Regions from separate parts of the Homo sapiens genome. Here region 2 is linked to region 1. The links come from fine-mapping of genetic effects on gene expression. A gene starts in region 1. The other region holds a variant in brackets. All regions are shown on one strand. Distances are from middle to middle.

The links.
Region 2: its variant is fine-mapped to the expression of PLIN1 in breast (GTEx, PIP 0.99).

The regions. Positions count from the first base shown.
Region 1 is chr15:89,674,432-89,683,120 of GRCh38, forward strand. It overlaps PLIN1 (perilipin 1), which reads right to left and starts at 4,936. Exons shown (of 9, transcript NM_002666.5): 1 at 4,820-4,936; 2 at 3,014-3,072. The coding sequence starts at 3,058. It overlaps PEX11A (peroxisomal biogenesis factor 11 alpha), which reads right to left. Exons shown (of 3, transcript NM_003847.3): 3 at 7,104-8,689.
Region 2 is chr15:89,815,617-89,824,305 of GRCh38, forward strand. It overlaps LOC124903551 (a long non-coding RNA gene), which reads right to left. Exons shown (of 2, transcript XR_007064753.1): 2 at 7,568-8,083. Among named protein-coding and RNA genes, the nearest start is that of ANPEP, 5.1 kb to the left of the region's middle. RefSeq lists a promoter at 1-326 and enhancers at 6,160-6,660, 6,661-7,161. The variant T/G (reference allele first, on the strand shown) is at 4,924.

The DNA.
Region 1 (8,689 bases):
TTTTGTAGAGGAGGGGTCTTGCCGGTCTTGAACTCCTGGACTCAAGTGATCCTTCTGCCTCAGCCTCCCAAATCACTGAGATTATAGGCCTAAGCCATTGCGCCCAGCCAAGACTTATATTTGAATGTCTCCCTGAATGAGAGCTCTCCCCCTCACAAAGTGGCCTGTGTCCCTTGTTGGACAGCTTTGCTGAGCTGAAATTTGCCTCCACCCCCCTGTTCCACACTCTGCCCTCTGGAACAAAACTGAGCAAACCTATTTCCTCATCCATGGGTTGGCCCTTCACATATTTGAAGTCAAATATGTCTCCCTTTAGAAGTGCCGCCATCATGTTAAATGGCTCCAGTTCCTAACTTCGTTTACAAATGGTTCACACTGTGGTCTGGTGACCCCCTCTCCTGGACATGCTACAGTTTTACATTATCTTTCTTAAAAATATACTACCCTCGCTTGAGCCCAGGAGTTTAAGGCCAGCCTGGGCAACACAGGGAGACCCCGTCTCTACAAAAAAAAATAATAAATAATAATAACATAATTAGCAGGGCATGGTGCTGTGTGCCTGTGGTCCCGGCTACTCGGGAACCTGAGGCGGGAAGATCGCATGAGTCCGGGAGTTGGAGGCTGTAGTGAGCCATAATCACGCCACTGTACCACAGCCTCGATGACAGAATGACACCCTGTCTCAAAAAACAAAAAACAAACAAACAACACTCAAAGACAGCACTCTGGGTGCGATCTGCACGTGCTGGGTGTAGTGGAACAATCGTTTATCATTTCCGGGGTGCTGTGCTGTTAGTAATGCACCTTTGGCAGCAGTCACATAATTAAGTTTTAGGTCACCTAGGAACCTTAGTGAAAAAACACTGGTCTTTGAGTAAAAGAATGAATTCTAGGGCTAAGTGTAGAAGCTCATGCCTGTAATCCCAACACTTTGGGAGGCTGAGGCGGGAGGATCATTTGAAGCCAGGAGTTTGAGACCACTCTGAGCCACAAAAAAAAAAAAAAAAAAAAAAAAAGCTGGCCATGCTAATATTTGATGGCATGTGGACTACACAGTCCCAGCTGCTGGGGAGGCTGAGGTGAGAGGACTGTCTGAGACCAGGAGTCCGAGGCTGCAGTGAACTATGACAATGCCACTGCACTCCAGCCGGGGTGACAGAGCAAGACTCTATATCTAAAAAATAAATAAATAAAATTAAAAGAACAAATTCTAGGCATGCAGAGGGAAAGAACATTTGCCAGGTGCCATTATGCTGCAGGCACTGGTCTGGGTGCCTTGGTGACATGAGCTCACTTAATTCTAACAGCCATCCTCTGGGGTCAGCACTGTCACCAACACTGAGTCGATGAGGAGATTGACAATCAGAAACAGGAAGTGATTTACCCAAGATCCCACAGCTGATAAGTGGCAGAGCCAGGATTCCAACACAAGTTGGAAATGGCCTACCTGGGATTACCTTCAAAATAACATGAAGTGGGGGAATTAATGGAAGTGAGGACGAGGCGGGATTGGCCACGAATTCATGGTCTTCGGGGCTAATAAAGGGTACGTGGGGCTTCCTATGTTCTTTTCTGTCTATTCTTATGAATGTTGAGAATTCTCCATATCAAAAGTAAAAAGAAAAAAAAACCCAGGTCAGATTCCGATGCTCAGGCTCTCTGTAGCTTTGAATATGACACTGTGGCATGGTTTTGCTCGCAAAGTGAAGACCTGACCTGTTCTGTTAGTAGGAGGCAGAGTTCAAAGACCCCCATCAATGACACCTACATGTACACTAAGACAGAGCAGCCCACAATATCTTAGTTTTTTTTTGTTGTTTGTTTGTTTGTTTTTTTGAGATGGAATCTCGCTGTCTCCCAGGCTGGAGTGCAGTGGCGCGATCTCAGCTCACTGCAAGCTCTGCCTCCTGGGTTCATGCCATTCTCCTGCCTCAGTCTCCCAAGTAGCTGGGACTACAGGCGCCCGCCACCATACCCCGCTGATTTTTTGTATTTTTAGTAGAGATGGGGTTTCACTGTGTTAGCCAGGATGGTCTTGATCTCCTGACCTTGTGAACCGCCCGCCTTGGCCTCCCAAAGTGCTGGGATTACAGGCGTGAGCCACTGCACCTGGCCAATATCTTAGTTTTTTATCCTGCAGGTGAATTTGAAATTTGAACTAGAAATAGACTATGACTATAAACAAGAAAACATTCTTTTTAACATTTTGGACGAGGCTTCAGAGGTTGTTTTACACAAAACCGAAGGAGGAAAGAGATCCTGGGAAGGGAATAAACCACCGTCTGTTAGAATGGCTTAACCATGTACTTGACCATTTTACGCCTCTCTCTGTTCTATGATTCAATACAAAACAAAGTGATTCCTAGTGCAGGAGTTAGTAAAAGCGTAACTTGGGCAAGGTGGATATTGCACAGGTTCATAATTTTTAAGTTTCACTATCCGAACTGTGCCCAAATCTGAGATGCCTTGCCAGGAGCCATCAAGCATCCCTAAAAGTATCAAATCACTTCAAGTCACAGTGAAAACCAGGTCAGAGATAGAACACCAGACACATGGAATATCCCACCCTTCCCCCCACACAGCAGCACAGGCTGTGCACCGTCTAACTCCGACAGGTGACATTTGCCGTTATGAATGATGCTGGAGACACAGAATACAGTGGCTCTGCACTGAATGCACATCCAGCTGGGTGGTGGACAGAGCATGGGCTTCTGCGTCAGGGTTTAAACAGTAGTTTCCTTCCTCTCCACTCCCCCCGTCCCTAAGCCAGGATTTCTGTCCCTTTTTTTCAAGGTGCTTAATTTTTAATAGGCATCTTTTTTTCCCCTCCCAGATCCTCCAACTGCCCCCTACAAAAGGTGGTGAGGGCAAGAATAACTAAGCCATGGTAGTCAATGAACTAGGATTATAATCTGGGAATATCTTGCTCTAAGTCCCCTGCATCTCCCCTCCCTGCTTCTTCCTCCTCCCTCAGTTGTCCATCCCCTGTCACAGATGAGCCCAAGTTACTTACAGGGAGGTCTCCATCCAGCAAGGTGAGGCCTTTGTTGACTGCCATCCTCGCTCCTCAAGCTGCAAAACAGAGTCCCAGGTCCCATCAGAAGCCCTCAGGCTTGAGCTCCACTGGGTCACTTCCCTACCTCTCATGGCCACCAACTAGGCCCAGGCTGCCTGGGGGCCCATTTGCCCTGAACAGAAGGCATTAGGTTGGAGGGTGAATATCACACACAATAGCCCCACTCCTTAGGGTCCCATAGCAATGAGTTGCTCCATAGCTTACTTGTCAAGACTGATGTTTCTTTCTTTTTCTTTTCTTTCTTTCTTTTTTTTTTTTTTTGAGATGGATTCTTGCTCTGTTGCCCAGGCTGGAGTGTAGTTGCACAATCTCGGCTCACTACAACCTCCGCCTCCCGGGTTCAAGGGATTCTCCTGCCTCAGCCTCCCAAGTAGCTGGGATTACAGGCGCCCACCACCACGCCCGGCTAGTTTTTTTTTTTTTTTCTGTTTAGTAGAGATGGGGTTTCACCATGTTGGCTAGGCTGGTGTCGAACTCCTGACCTCAAGTGATCCACCTGCCTAGACCTCCCAAAGTGCTGGGATTACAGGCATGAACCACCACACTGGCTAATTTTTGTATTTTTAGTAGAGATGGGGTTTCATCATGTTGGCCAGGCTGGTCTCGAACTCCTGGCCTCAAGTGATCTGCCCACCTTGGCCTCCCAAAGTGCTGTGATTACAGGCAAGAGCCACCATGCCCGGCCAAGAATAATGTTTCCTATAAGAGTTCAGGTTAAGAGGCCAGGCGCGGTGGCTCAGGCCTGTAATCCCGGCACTTTGGGAGTCCAAGGCAGGCAGATCACCTGAGTTCAGGAGTTCAAGACCAGCCTGGGCAACATGGTGAAACTCCGTCTCTGCTAAAAATACAAAAATTAGCCAGACGTGGTGGTGGGCAGCTGTAATCCCAGCTACTTGGGAGGCTGAGGCAGGAGGATCGCTTGAGCCTGAGAGGTGGAGGTTGCAGTGAGCTGAGATCCTGCCACTGCACTCCAGCCTGGGTGACAGAGGGAGACTCTGTCTCAAAAAAAAAAAGGAGTTCAGGTTAGGAAATAAAAAATGCAGGTAGCCATAAGAGATAAAAAGTTTTAGATAAAATCTTAAGGCTCTTAAATGAGGGTCCAAAAGAGACTAAAACAAGAAGTTTCAAGCTGGGTGCACTGGCAAGCACCTGTAATCCCAGCTACTGAGGCTGACATGGGAGAATTGCTTGAGCCCAGGAGTTTGAGATCAGCCTCGGCAATACAGTGAGATGCCCATCTCTAAAAAAATAAATAAACAAGTTAAAGGTTTCATCTTTGAAAAGGCTCTGGGTTAATTCCTCTATTTCTCTCTTTCTCTCTGTCTGTCCCTCTCCCCCTCTCCCTATCTGTTTTTTGAGACAGGGTCTCAATCTGTTGCCCAGGATGGAATGTGGTGGCACGATCATGGCTCAATGCAGCCTTGACCTCCTGGGATCAAGGTACCCTCCCACCTCAGCCTCTCATGTAGCTGGGACTACAGGCATGCACCACAATGCAGGGCTAATTTTTTCTCTTTTTTTATAGAGACAGGATCCCACTGTGTTGCCCAGGTTGTTCTTGAACTCCTGGGCTCAAGTGATCCACCTGCCTTGGCCACCTGCAGTGCTGGGATTAAAGGCATGATCCACTGTGCCTATCCAATTCCTCTATTTCTAGATTCTGGTATCTATACCAGAATCTCTCCCTCAGTAGTTTCCCTGCAGAGTTTTTCATCCCCAGCAAAATCCCCAAGAGGCCCTTACCTTCAACTTCTTCCCTTTAATGTTCATAAACAAGCCATGTAAGGCAGGTGCCCCAGGACCCCAACACTCACTCCGGCTGACCGCCACCTCAGTCTCACAGAGCCCAGGCTGCAGAGTGTCTCCTCAGGCAGAAACAATTCCTGTCACTCCTGGGAGGCTTGGGCAATGCTGCTTCCACCTCCCAGCTAGAGGAGGGCAGAGAGGGAGAGACAACAGGGTCAGCCAGTTGTCATGGTTATATGACCCAGGGTTCCCCAGGCATATCCTAACTTCTCTAAGGACATTTAGCAAACAAGGAGGTAGGTGGCAGAGCTGAAGGAGATCCAGGCTCAGAGGACTTAGTATTCCAGAGCCATGAAGCATCAGTTCTGTAATGTTCCTGCCCTCAATTCACAAAAATCTGCTTTCCAGAAAGAAGGTATAGGGATAGACATCATTAAACTCAAAAGCTCTAAAGTTCTATATACCTCTGCAATCTTTTGGCTCCTTTTCCATAGAGGGTCTTGTGGGAGTTTTCAATCCATTTCTCTCATCTTTTCTTATTTACTAGCAAGACTGAATGCTGAACAGTAAAATTTAAACCCACACAGAAGAGTTCATCTGAATGTATTCATCTTTGATTATGGAGATAAATTGCCCTCAGTGAAGAAGCGACAGAGCCGGGAGTTGAGTTTTTGACAATATAGCCTTTGAGTTGAGGGAGGAATTCCCACTTCTTAGAATTCAAAAAAATTTATTGAACTTTACCTGGCCTAAGATGCTACCAGAATGAAGAGTAGGAGAGCCAAGTAGATTTTTATTCTCCTGGGTCTGGATAAGCGACAGTGTTGACTAGGATTCTATCACTAATCAAGAGCACCCAGACAGCCAAGAATTAGCACCACTCAACCCTTCTTTACCCAGGACTCAAGCACAAGCCCAAGTTCTAGTTCCTGGCTTTAGATATGATGGAGGACTATGGTATAAGCCATAGCTTTCAGATTAACTAAGAAGGGCCTCTTCATGAAAACAGACAATAGGAAAACAAAACTTATTTTCTTTGTTGCTGGTGGAATTATATGTATTGTTGACTCTGTTAAGTCACACAGTGTGGGCAAGAGAAGAAAGAGGCAGGGGTGGGGAATTATGAAAGATCCTTGGTAATAAATTACGTATCTGTGATGCAATAAAGTAGGGAATGAGAAGGCAGGAAAGGGAGGAGTCAAGCAGGGAGGCTTCAAAGGAGTAATACGCTATACGTTTAATACTTATTGATCCAACCTGTGCTTTTCAAATGTAAGGCAGTAGAGAAGACAAAGTATTTAAAGAAGTGGCCTCTGCCCTCACCTCAAGGTTCAGCACAAATTATCTGTGAGGCTGTGACTGGACAGCAACCTGAGCCAAAGGGCAGTTTTCAGCCTTCAGAGTAGTGGCTTTGGGCCAGAGGGAACATAGGGCTTTGTGCCTGAAAGCTCTGCCAAATCAAATAGTCCTTTGGCTGCTTTAGCTGGGAGTGCAGAATGTGGGTGAGAGGTGAGAAGTGGTGAAAGGGCCTAGGAGAGTCCCGAGGGAAGACAGAAGTGTTAGTTTTCTAGCAGTAGCTTGCAGGGCATAGAGTTCTATCTTCTTTCCTTCTCCGTACCTACCTGCTTTCCCTACCCCTCCACCAAGTGAGAGCAGGGACCTAGGTCATCTTGCTCACAAGTGGATACCCAAAACCATGCATGGCACTCAAACATTCATTGTTGAATAAATGAATTGTCAGGCAACAATGCTCAGTTGTGAATGTGCTGGGCTGTACATCTACGAAGAACTTCTTCGATTTTTGGCATCCCTCATGAATGTGGAGGCTCTGGGGTGGAAAACATTAGTTACAAAGAAGGATTCACAGGGTGGTACCAGGACACCATTAAGGTTTACACAAACCTCTTAGAAGAGGTAGTATTTCCCAAACTCCCCACCACTCACCATTGCAGAGGACAAAAGTACCAAGATGGATACCACTGTAACATAACATACCACCATGAATTCAAGGCAGACTTACCTAGGCAGAAGCCAGCCAGCGATTGACAGGGCTACTGTAGAGCACCATCTCCATGGCAGCAGTCTAGATGAGTTCATTTCAGAGGTCCCTCTCAACCCAGAGGCTCTACATCTCAATCTTTCTCCATCCTCCTCCTCAGCCTGGATCTTCTAGCCCAGAGCTCGCTGTACCAACTGTGTAGGCTGATTGAGGATTATCTGATGGATTGCCTTATGTTTAACTCTTCTCTCTTCCCAGAACACACTCACAGACACAAGTCAATTTTGTCTAGAAATTTATTGAACATAGTTAATCTATTACAGTAGAGGATCTGGACAATAAAAATAGTTATTTAAGCTTTTTATTTTCCCTGACCTAGTAGCTTTCATGTCTCTTAAAATTCCCTAAATTTTATTTCTCAAATCCCATATCGTGATTGGTTAAACAGACAGCCAAGAATCTGAGTCTATTTTTTGAGAATCTCAATCACATTTCTGGGAAATGTGACTTATTGAGTACATATTTATTTTCTCATTTCCATTCAGATAAATGACACAGCTTTGCTGGGAGGACTGACATCGGCCTCCTACCTGCTGGCATCCTATTTCTCTACCTCACCTCCCTCAAACTAAAGGATCTGTAACCACATATAAAGACCCACACCCAAGATGGCAGATAGGAACACAAGTCAATGTCATTGACTCAGCATTCCATTGTCCTCTTCACTGGCTTCCTCCTGCGCTTTCCACCTCCCTCAATCACCCTAGAAATAAGATGTCTGATTTATCGTAGAAAATTGTGACTCTCTTACATCTGGAGTATTCATGAAATTTTTTTGACTGGATAAATTTTGATGAAAATTAATGTAGAATTGCCTAAATTGTTAGAAGGATTTAAATAAAACAATCTAACTGATAAGTCTAAATACTGTCTTAATTTTTTTTTAAGACACAGGGTCTTGCTCTATCACCCGGGCTGGAGTGCGGTGGAAGCTCACTGCAGCCTTGAACTCCTGGGCTCAAGTGATCCTCCTGCTTCAGCCTCCAGAGTATCTGGGACTACAGGCATACTCCACCATGCCTGGCTAATTTTTTAACACTTTGTTGTAGAGAAGGAGTCTCACTACATTGCCCAGGCTGGTCTTGAACTCCTGGCCTCAAGCAATCCTTCCGCTTCAGCCTCCCAAAGTGCTGGGATTATAGGTGTGAGCCACCACACTCCACCCAGTTTTAGTTTTTCTAGAAAAGAATATAAACCACTGGACAAGGAAATTTCCAAATTATGGGAGAGTAAGAGGCAAAAAACAGGATTCAGGAGGGGATCACATTTCTACTCAATTCTGAAGACAGTGGGAGAGCATGGAGAGAACACTGGATTAGGAGTCAGAGGAATGAGGCTCTAGCCTCAGTTTTTTGTTTGTCTCACTGTCAGCTTCTTATCTGTCACAGGCTACATATAGGCACCCATTGTGACCCTGTACCTATTTTTATAAGTCCCTCCGGTCTGCTTCTGATTTTTGCTTATTCACTGCACCCATAGACACAATTTATACCATGAAGGTGCCTGATGCTTTTCTGATTCTACTTCTGCACAGAGCAAGGACATGAGTGCAGTGATGGTATAAGGGCCAACAAGTTGAGAGGCTGTAAGCCCAGCTCTCCTCCATCCTGCTACTGACATCAGAGCCTCTACTAGATCTGAGAGTGCCATGCACCAGACCTACTGTAATCGTGAAACCAATGATCCATATGACCCTAAAGTTATTGTATACTGGTGTTCAATGATCAGTGCGATTGGGTCTTTTTAAATTTTTTCCTTTCAATTTTTATTCATTCAGCAAATACTAAGCTCCCACTATGCACATAAGA
Region 2 (8,689 bases), 140 kb after region 1:
AGTGCTGAGATTACAGGAGTGAGCCACCACACCTGGCCTGCGCCTCTCATCTTGATCCTGCTTGCAGAGGTTGTGCAGCCACCGGAGCCCCGCCAGGGTGGGGCTCCCTGTCTCTGAGCAGCTTTAATGGGCGGTACCAGATAATATTTGTATTGGTTCCCTGTGGCTGCCGTAACACAAACATAAAACAACACTAATTTACTATCTTACAAGTTTTGTAAAATCAGAAGTCCAAAATGGGTCTCGCTGGACTAAAAGCAAGGGGGTTGAGGGATACAGCTTTCTTGAGGCTGGAAGGGAACCTGTTTCTTTGGCTTTTCTGGCTTCTAGAAGCTGCCCACATTCCTTGGCTGGTGGCCCCATCCATCTTCAAAGCCAGCAGTGGCCCACCAGTCTCTCACAATCTGTCACTCTGACACCAACTGTTCTGCCTCTTGCTTCCACTGGTGAGCATCTTTGTGATTACATCGGGCCTACCCAGATAATCCAGGGTAATCTTTCTATTTTAAATCAATGGATTGGCAACTTGAATTCCACCTGCAACTGTAATTTCCCTTCGTGGGGTAGCATAACATATTCACAGATTCTGGGCATTAGAACCAGGGCATCTTTTGAGGAGGAGGATATGATTATGTCTACCACAATATTCAAGCTGACTTCCAGACTTTCAGATTTATAATCAAATTTAAGCTCTTCCTTATCCATGATTGGAATCCTTGGGACAGTTAAAGCCTTGCACTGCATGGTCCAAATTGATGGCTTTGTGACTGGCTGTGTTTTATTATTTTACTTGCACTTGCTCTTCTTTTGGAAACTTCATGGAGGACCAGGGTACCTCTAGGTAGCAGCCTTGCTTCTCCTTCCTAATTTGCTCTGTACTCTTAAAAACCAGGTCACAAACATATCGGAATATAGAATTGTGTGTAAAGTAAGAGTAAGTAGGCTGTGAGTGAGACCTCAGAGGCTATTTTGTTTTTTTTCTCTCTCCAGTCTCATGCATGTCTGACTCTCTCCACTATCATATCTGGCATAATCTCCTCCATGTCTGACAAGCCAAGGAAAACACTACATCAGGCCAGGAGAGAATCTTCCCCCCGGAGCTCTGCCTCTCCCACCCAGGCTCCGCGGAGATTTTAAGAGGAGTAAAGATCCTGCTGTGGCAGAAGTGCAACCCAGCTTTCTGGAGGGCAGTTTGGGGTTAGGAATGAAGATCACTTTCAGAAATTTAGCCTGAAGAGGCTGGGCGTGGTGGCTCATGCCTGTAAGGCAGGTGGATCACTTGAGGTCGGGAATTCAAGGCCAGCCTGGGCAACCTGGTGAAACTGTGTCTGTACTAAAACACAAAAATCAGCCAGGTGTGGTGGCGCATGCCTGTGGTCCCACCTACTTGGGAGGCTGAGGCACGAGAATCGCTTGAACCTGGGAGGCAGAGGCTTCAGTGAGCTGAGATCACATGACTGCACTCCAGCCTCGACTACAGAGCAAGACTGTCTCAAAAAAATAAATAAATTTAGCCTAAGGAAATAGAATATTTATATGCAAGGCTTTTCACTGCAGTATTACTTATAATACTGGAAAATCAGAAATAGCCTAAGTGGGCTGGGCGTGGTGGCTCATGCTTGTAATCCCAGCACTTTGGGAGGCCAAGGCAGGCAGATTACGAGGTCAGGAGTTCGAGACCAGCCTGGCCAATGCAGTGAAACCCTGTCTCTACTAAAAATACAAAAATTGGGTGGGCATGGTGGTGGGTGCCTGTAATCCCAGCTACTGGGGAGGTTGAGGCAGGAGAATCGCTTGAACCCGGGAGGTGGAGGTTGCAGTGAGCCGAGATTGCGCCACTACACTCCAGCCTGGGTAACAGAGAGAGACTCTGTCCACCCCCTGTGAAAAAAAAGATGAAGAGACAGTGCTTGCTCCTGCAGAAAGAAAATTCATGGGCTCATAAACATGTAAAAAGATGTTCAATAACTCACTTATTAAGAAAATGAAAATTATAACTACAAAAGATACTATTCTTCACTTACCAGATCAGCAAAGATAAAAAGCAGTTTGGTAGGTCAGGCACAGTGGCTCATGTCTGTAATTCCAGCACTTTGGGAGGCTGAGGCAGGAGAATCACTTAAAACCAGGTGTTCGAGACCAGCCTGGGCCACGTGGCAAAACCCTGTCTCTACCAAAAAAAAAAAATTAGCCAGGCGTGGTGGCACGTGCCTGTAGTCCCAGCTACTTGGAAGAATGAGGTGGGAGGATTGCTTGAGCCTGAAAAGTCAAGGCTGCAGTGAGCCATGATCGTGTCACTGCACTCCAGCCAGAGCGATAGAGTGAGTCCCTGTCTCAAAAAAAAAAAAAAAAGTTTGGTAACACACTATTCGCAAGGGTGGGAGGAAAACAGGCAACCCCCTGCATTGCTGGTTGGTGTGTAGACTGACTCGACCTCAAAAGAGAATATTTGGGCAGTATTTATCAAACATATAAACACATGTCCTGTTTGACTTGGCACTTCCAGAAATTTATCCTACAGATAATGCTCACACGTAAGTGAAAGGAATACACAAGGCTTTCCACTGCATCGCTGCAACATTGAGCCAAAACCACAATGACTTTTGCACCAATCTAATAGCTGGAGACAACCTAAATGTCCACCAATAGAGATGGGATAAATGAATGATTATTGTATGCCCTGCAATGGAATGCATATGGCTATCAAAAATAACTAGGATTCTCCTTACAGAACGCTCCCCAGGACAGGTTGTTTAGTAATAAAACCTAGACGCAGAGCCGTGTTCAAGTCGTTTATCAATTGTACTTAAATGGAAAAAGCACAGAGACACACAATTTGCTTTTATATGTGCACGCGCTGATAACACGAGTTGTTTCCCAGGAAGGAAACTGGAGCTGGAGAACAGGGTGGGAAACGCATTTTTCAGCATATCCTTTTGTTCTCTTGAATCTTGAACCATGTGAATACCGTGTCTAATCAAAATATAAATAAAATTAAAAGTGAAGACGAAAGACCAGAAGATTAACAGGCTTTATAATATAATTTTTTTTTTGAGATGGAATTTTGCTCTTGTTGCCCAGGCTGGAGTGCAATGGCGCAATCTTGGCTCACTGCAACCTCCGCCTCCTGGGTTCAAGCGATTCTCCTCCCTCAGCCTTCCGAGTAGCTGGAATTACAGGCGTGTGCTACCACACCCACCTAATTTTGTATTTTTAGTAGAGACAGGGTTTCTCCATGTTGGTCAGGCTGGTCTCAAACTCCCAACCTCAGGTGATCCACTTGCCTTGGCCTCCCAAAATGTTGGGATTACAGGCGTGAGCCACTGCGCCTGGCTATAATATAAAAATTTGAATGCCAGGTGAGGTGGCTCACATCTGTAATCCCAGCACTTTGGGAGGCCGAGGCAGGGGCATCGATTGAGGCCAAGGCAACATAGCAAGACCCCATCTCTATTTTAAAAACTTTTTTTAACTTGGCTGGGCGCAGTGGCTCATGCCTACAATCCCAGCACTTTGGGAGGCTGAGTCAGGTGGATCACCTGAGGTCAGGAGTCCCGGCCAACACGGTGAAAATCTGTCTCTACTAAAAATACAAAAATTAGCCGGGCATGGTGGCAGGCACCGGTTATCCCAGCCACTCAGGAGGCTGAGGCAGGAGAATCACTTGATCCTAGGAGACAGAGATTACAGTGAGCTGAGATCGCACCATTGCACTCTAGCCTGGGCGACAAGAGCAGAACTCTTTCTCAAAAAAAAAATAAATAAAAATTATAAACTTATATTTGTGGATGAAATGATTTGATGTCTCAGGTTTGCTTTGACCTAATCCAGAAGGGGTGGAGAAGTCAGGAATGCTCAATACAGCATGATTTAAAATAGGGGAAAATCAGAAACAATTAGATGTTCAGTAATGGAGGATTGGTTAAATAAATTATGGGCTTCTATATGAAAAAAGTACTATGCTACCATTCTAAAAACAATAAATCATAGCTGGACGCGGTGGCTCACGTCTGTAATCCCAGCACTTTGGGAGGCCGAGGCAGGTGGATCACCTCAGGTCGGGAGTTCGAGACCAGCCTGACCAACATGGAGAAACCCCATCTCTACTAAAAATACAAAAATACCCGGGCATGGTGGCGCATGCCTGTAATCCCAGCTACTCAGGTGGCTGAGGCAGGAGAATCACTAGAACCCAGGAGGCAGAGGCTGCGGTGAGCCGAGATCGCGCCACTGCACTACAGCCTGGGCAACAAGAGCGAAACTCTGTCTCAAAATAATAATAATAATAATAATAATAATAAATCATATTTTAGAAGTATTGAAAGAGTACTTTCTGTTTTGTTTTGCTAATAATCGTGGAGTGGGAAGACCTTTTTAGGTATATGAAATCCATACTCCACAAATGAAAAGACCGCTACAGTTGACTACATAAAGGTAAAAATCTCTGCATTGCACAACCACCACAAGCAAAGTCAAAAAGAACCCTCCATAACAGGGGAAAATTAGCTATATGTTGCTAACTGTTGACTCTCAGAGATGGGTATATTGAGGGTTCATTATTACTGTTATTTTTTAGTGTGTTTTCAAATTTCCATAACAAAAGGAAAACTTAAATATATACAAACTTCTGTATGGCAAAAGCCAAATATTACACTGGACAATAATATTTGCAACACATATAAACAACAACAGATTAATATCAATAATGTCCTAAAAAGGTCCTACAAGGTGTTTGTAAAAGACATAAAAACAGGCCAGGCGCAGTGGCTCACGCCTGTAATCCCAGCACTTTGGGAGGCTGAGGCGGGAGGATCACGAGGTCAGGTGATCAACACCATCCTGGCTAACATGGTGAAACCCCGTCTCTACTAAAAAAAAAATAATAATAATACAAAAAATTAGCCGGGCGTGGTGGTGGTAGCC[T/G]GTTACTCCCAGCTACTTCGGAGGCTGAGACAGGAGAATGGCGTGAACCCAGGAGGCGGCGCTTACAGTGAGCCGAGATCATGCCACTGCATTCCAGCCTGGGCAACAGAGTGAGACTCCGTCTCAAAATAAATAAATAAACAAACAAACAAACATTAGGGCAGAATAGGACTTGGGAAAATAAAATAAAATAAAAACAACACAACTGAAAACCGGGCAAAGGATTAGATCTGAAACTTCACAGAGGAGGAAATTTTAAAAGCCAACTAACAGGTGAAAAGATGTTTAACCTTAGTCATACTCAGGAAACACAATTTCAAAACAATGAGATGTCAGTTTTCACTTATGATGTTGGCCAAGGTCTAGACCAACGGATAACATCTAGAGTCGGCCAGGGTGTGGGGAACTGGGATCCCCCCACAGTCCTGGGGCACATGGGAATCGCTATGAATAAAATGGCAAGCCCTATTCACAATTTAACCACAGCTACCCTTTCATCCAGTGATCCTGTTTTGGGGAATTTATCCTAAACCCAGGGAGTAACGAAACTACTGCTTAAACCATTCATGCAGGAGGAGGCTTATTAGAGCATTCCTTGTTCGAGAAGAAAAATAAGCCAAAATGTCTGTAGAGCACCCTTTAAACAAGTGAATAAAGGTCCACAGGAAACAGTGTACACAGTCACAGAGCGTGTGTGCTAACTCTGTATGTATCACCTTGGAATGATGTCTGTTCGTACATTTTTAAGTTCAAAAGCAAGTTCCAAGCAATGCATTTCATCTCACCCTCTATTACAACAGCCCCAGGGATTGTCCCCATTTTATAGAGGAAGCTGATGGCTCAGGCGTGAGTAACCACCCCAGGCCAGTGCCCAGCTTGTGTCAGACCTTCCGAGGAAGCCACATCTGTCTGACCCAGCAAAGCTGCAGGGTCCTCTCTCTGGGTGCGTCATTCGGGTGTATTGTCATGAGTGCTGGGATGAAATGGAAATGAACTTGCCAAATTATTAACCCACTCTGCCTCAGTGAGGTTGACTTGAGCCAGGGGTGGGCTGGGGGAGGGAGACAGGGGAGAGACTATCCATTTTTTCCTTATATGCTTGTTTATTCTTTGAATTGTTAGAACAAACGTGAGATTTTCATAGCAACCACCCACCACTACAAAACCATTAAAATACTGCTTAAAGGGTGAGGTGCAGTGGCTCATACCTGCAATTCCAGCACTTTAGGAGGCAGAGGAGGTTGGATTGCTTGAGGCCGGGAGTTCAAGACCAGCCTGGCCAACATGGCAAAACCCTGTCTCTACTAAAAATACAAAAATCAGCCGGGCGTGGTGACATGCACCTGTAATTCCTGCTTTTTGGGAGGCTGAGGCGCAAGAGTTGCTTGAACACAAGAGGCAGAAGTTGTAGTGAGCTGAGATCGTGCCATTGCACTCCAGCCCAGGCGACAGAGTAATACTCTGTCTCAAAAAAAAAAAAAAAAAAAAAAGAGAGAAAAGAAAAGGTGGAAGTGGGAGGGGCAGGCAGGACTCAGAATGATGCCTCCCTGCTCATCCTGCGTGGCATCCCTTGCTGCCACCTCCATCTCAGTAACTCAGCCCCACGTGGTGCTCGGAAGAGCCCTTGGGAGAGGGTGCGTGATCTCAGGGCGTGGCAGCTTAGTGGGGGACTTTCCCCAAAGACTCCTTCTCTAGGCTGGAGTCCCTTGGTGAGGACGGGAGCAGCTGTTTCTAAACCTCCCTCTCCCCACAAGCTTAAGCAGCACAGGCTGCCTGCAGGCACTTTGGTCAGCTGTGTGTATGCGTGGCTCCCGTGCACCGAGGATGACTGGTCTACCTGGGCAACAACAGCAGGGATAATAAGCTCCGTGGGCGCAGGGTTCCTGCCTGCGCTGTTTTCCACTGTATGCAGCACTTAGCACAGGACTTGGCACATATAGGGCGAACTAAAGAACCAAAGCAGGGCATGATGGTGTGCATCTGTCATTCCAGTTTCTCAGGAGGCTGAGGTGGGAGGATCGCTGGAGCCCAGGCCTTCGAGGTCAGCCTGGATAGAATGGTGAGATGACAGAAACCCCCACACTGTGACGAGGGAGGGCAGGAGAAGGTGAGTGTCCATGGGGCACTGTTGAGGAATGAGGTGCATTGTCAGATGGACAGGTGGAGGGAGGGTGTCCGTAGCAGAGGGACCAACATTTCCAAAAGCAGGGGGTCCGGTGCATGGCGAGGGGGAGGCTGGAGTGCTCAGGGACAGTGGAGCCCTGAATGCCGAGCTAGGGAATTGAGCTCTATTCCTGGGAATCCTGAATCCCTGATGAAGTTGGAGAAAAGGACACTGATGGAATTAGGTTTGCCTTTTAGAGAGAGCCCCTGGGGACAGTTTGGGGACCAGATTGGAAGGGTGCCAGGTAGGAGGCAGGAAGAGCAGTTGGTGGCGGGTGGGGGGGTGGGGTGCCCTCCAGAGACAGAAGGAGAGCAGTTCAGGGATATTCCAGAGGTGGCTTCAGGAGGCCTGGTGACCAGCAGTGGGGGAGGGAGTCAGGGGAATGGGGCACCAGGGCTGCTGCTGGGGCTGGGGAGGGCAGTGCTAGAGTCAGTACTTCCTGGCACTGAGATTTTTTTTTTCAATTTCTTATTGCTGTTGTTTTCAAGAACTCAGTTTGGATTTTATTATAAAATTGATTAAAAACACATTTTTTGGAAAAAAAAAAAAGACAAAGAGTAGCTTTTACAATGAACTTCTTTGGGAACTTTCTCAGGAAGTGGGAAAGGGCCTGTTGTTGTCCAGGCTGTGGAAGGGATGGAAAGGACCTAGAGCCCACAGAGGTCCCTGAGGTGGCAGCAGGGCAGGGCAGAGTGGGGTGGGGGGAGGAATGGACCAGGCAGGTGGGGACGCCAAGTCCCGCATGGCACCCCTCGGCGGGCTCCCTCCCCAGTGCCCCCTGGATGCCACACCTAAGCACGGATGTGGTTCCCCCAGGAGTCCCCCAGGGCAGGGCAGGGCAGGGACCCTGCAGAGGAATGCTGGGTAGGAGGCAGCTTTGTGGTCAGACAGACTTGGCTTCCTCAGAAGGTCTGACACAAGCTGGGCACTGGCCTGGGGTGGTTACTCACGCCTGAGCCATCAGCTTCCTCTGTAAAATGGGGACAATCCCTGGGGCTGTTGTAAGAATTAAATGAGAAAAATCCTGTACAGCATTTAGCAATGCCCAGCCCTTAAGAAGCCCTTGGAGAGGAGCCCCCCAGGGATTGTCTTAGTGGGTCTTTGACCAGGTGGTGTGGCTCACACCTCCAAGCTGTCCCCTCTACAGAGGGGGTTGGGTGGGGGTGGGAGAGGAGACCTCATGCCTTCCGATCTGTCCTGGGCATGAGGTCTCCTCTTCTCCATCACGGATGTCCCACCCACTCCCACGGGTTCACCATCTCCCTGGACACCATCCTCCATTTTCACCCATGGCCTAAGACGTCCTGCCCAGCCCCCTCCACAGAACCAGCTCCTTGTAGTCATCTGAACCGGGCATCCTGGGGGCTCTCAAATATACCTCCAAACCTGACCCTGCCATCCTGCCCCTACACCTTGGCCAAGGGTGCCACGCCCATCAGGCTCTTTGCCTCCCTGTCCCCTATCCAATAGGCCTCAATTCTGCTCAATTCTGCAGCCACTGCCCTGTGCTCTGCCTTAGGGGAGGACGCGGCAGCCGCTCACTGGCCACTCCAGCCTCCTAGGTGGTCCCCCTGCCCTCACCACAACCTCTGCTCCACTGGC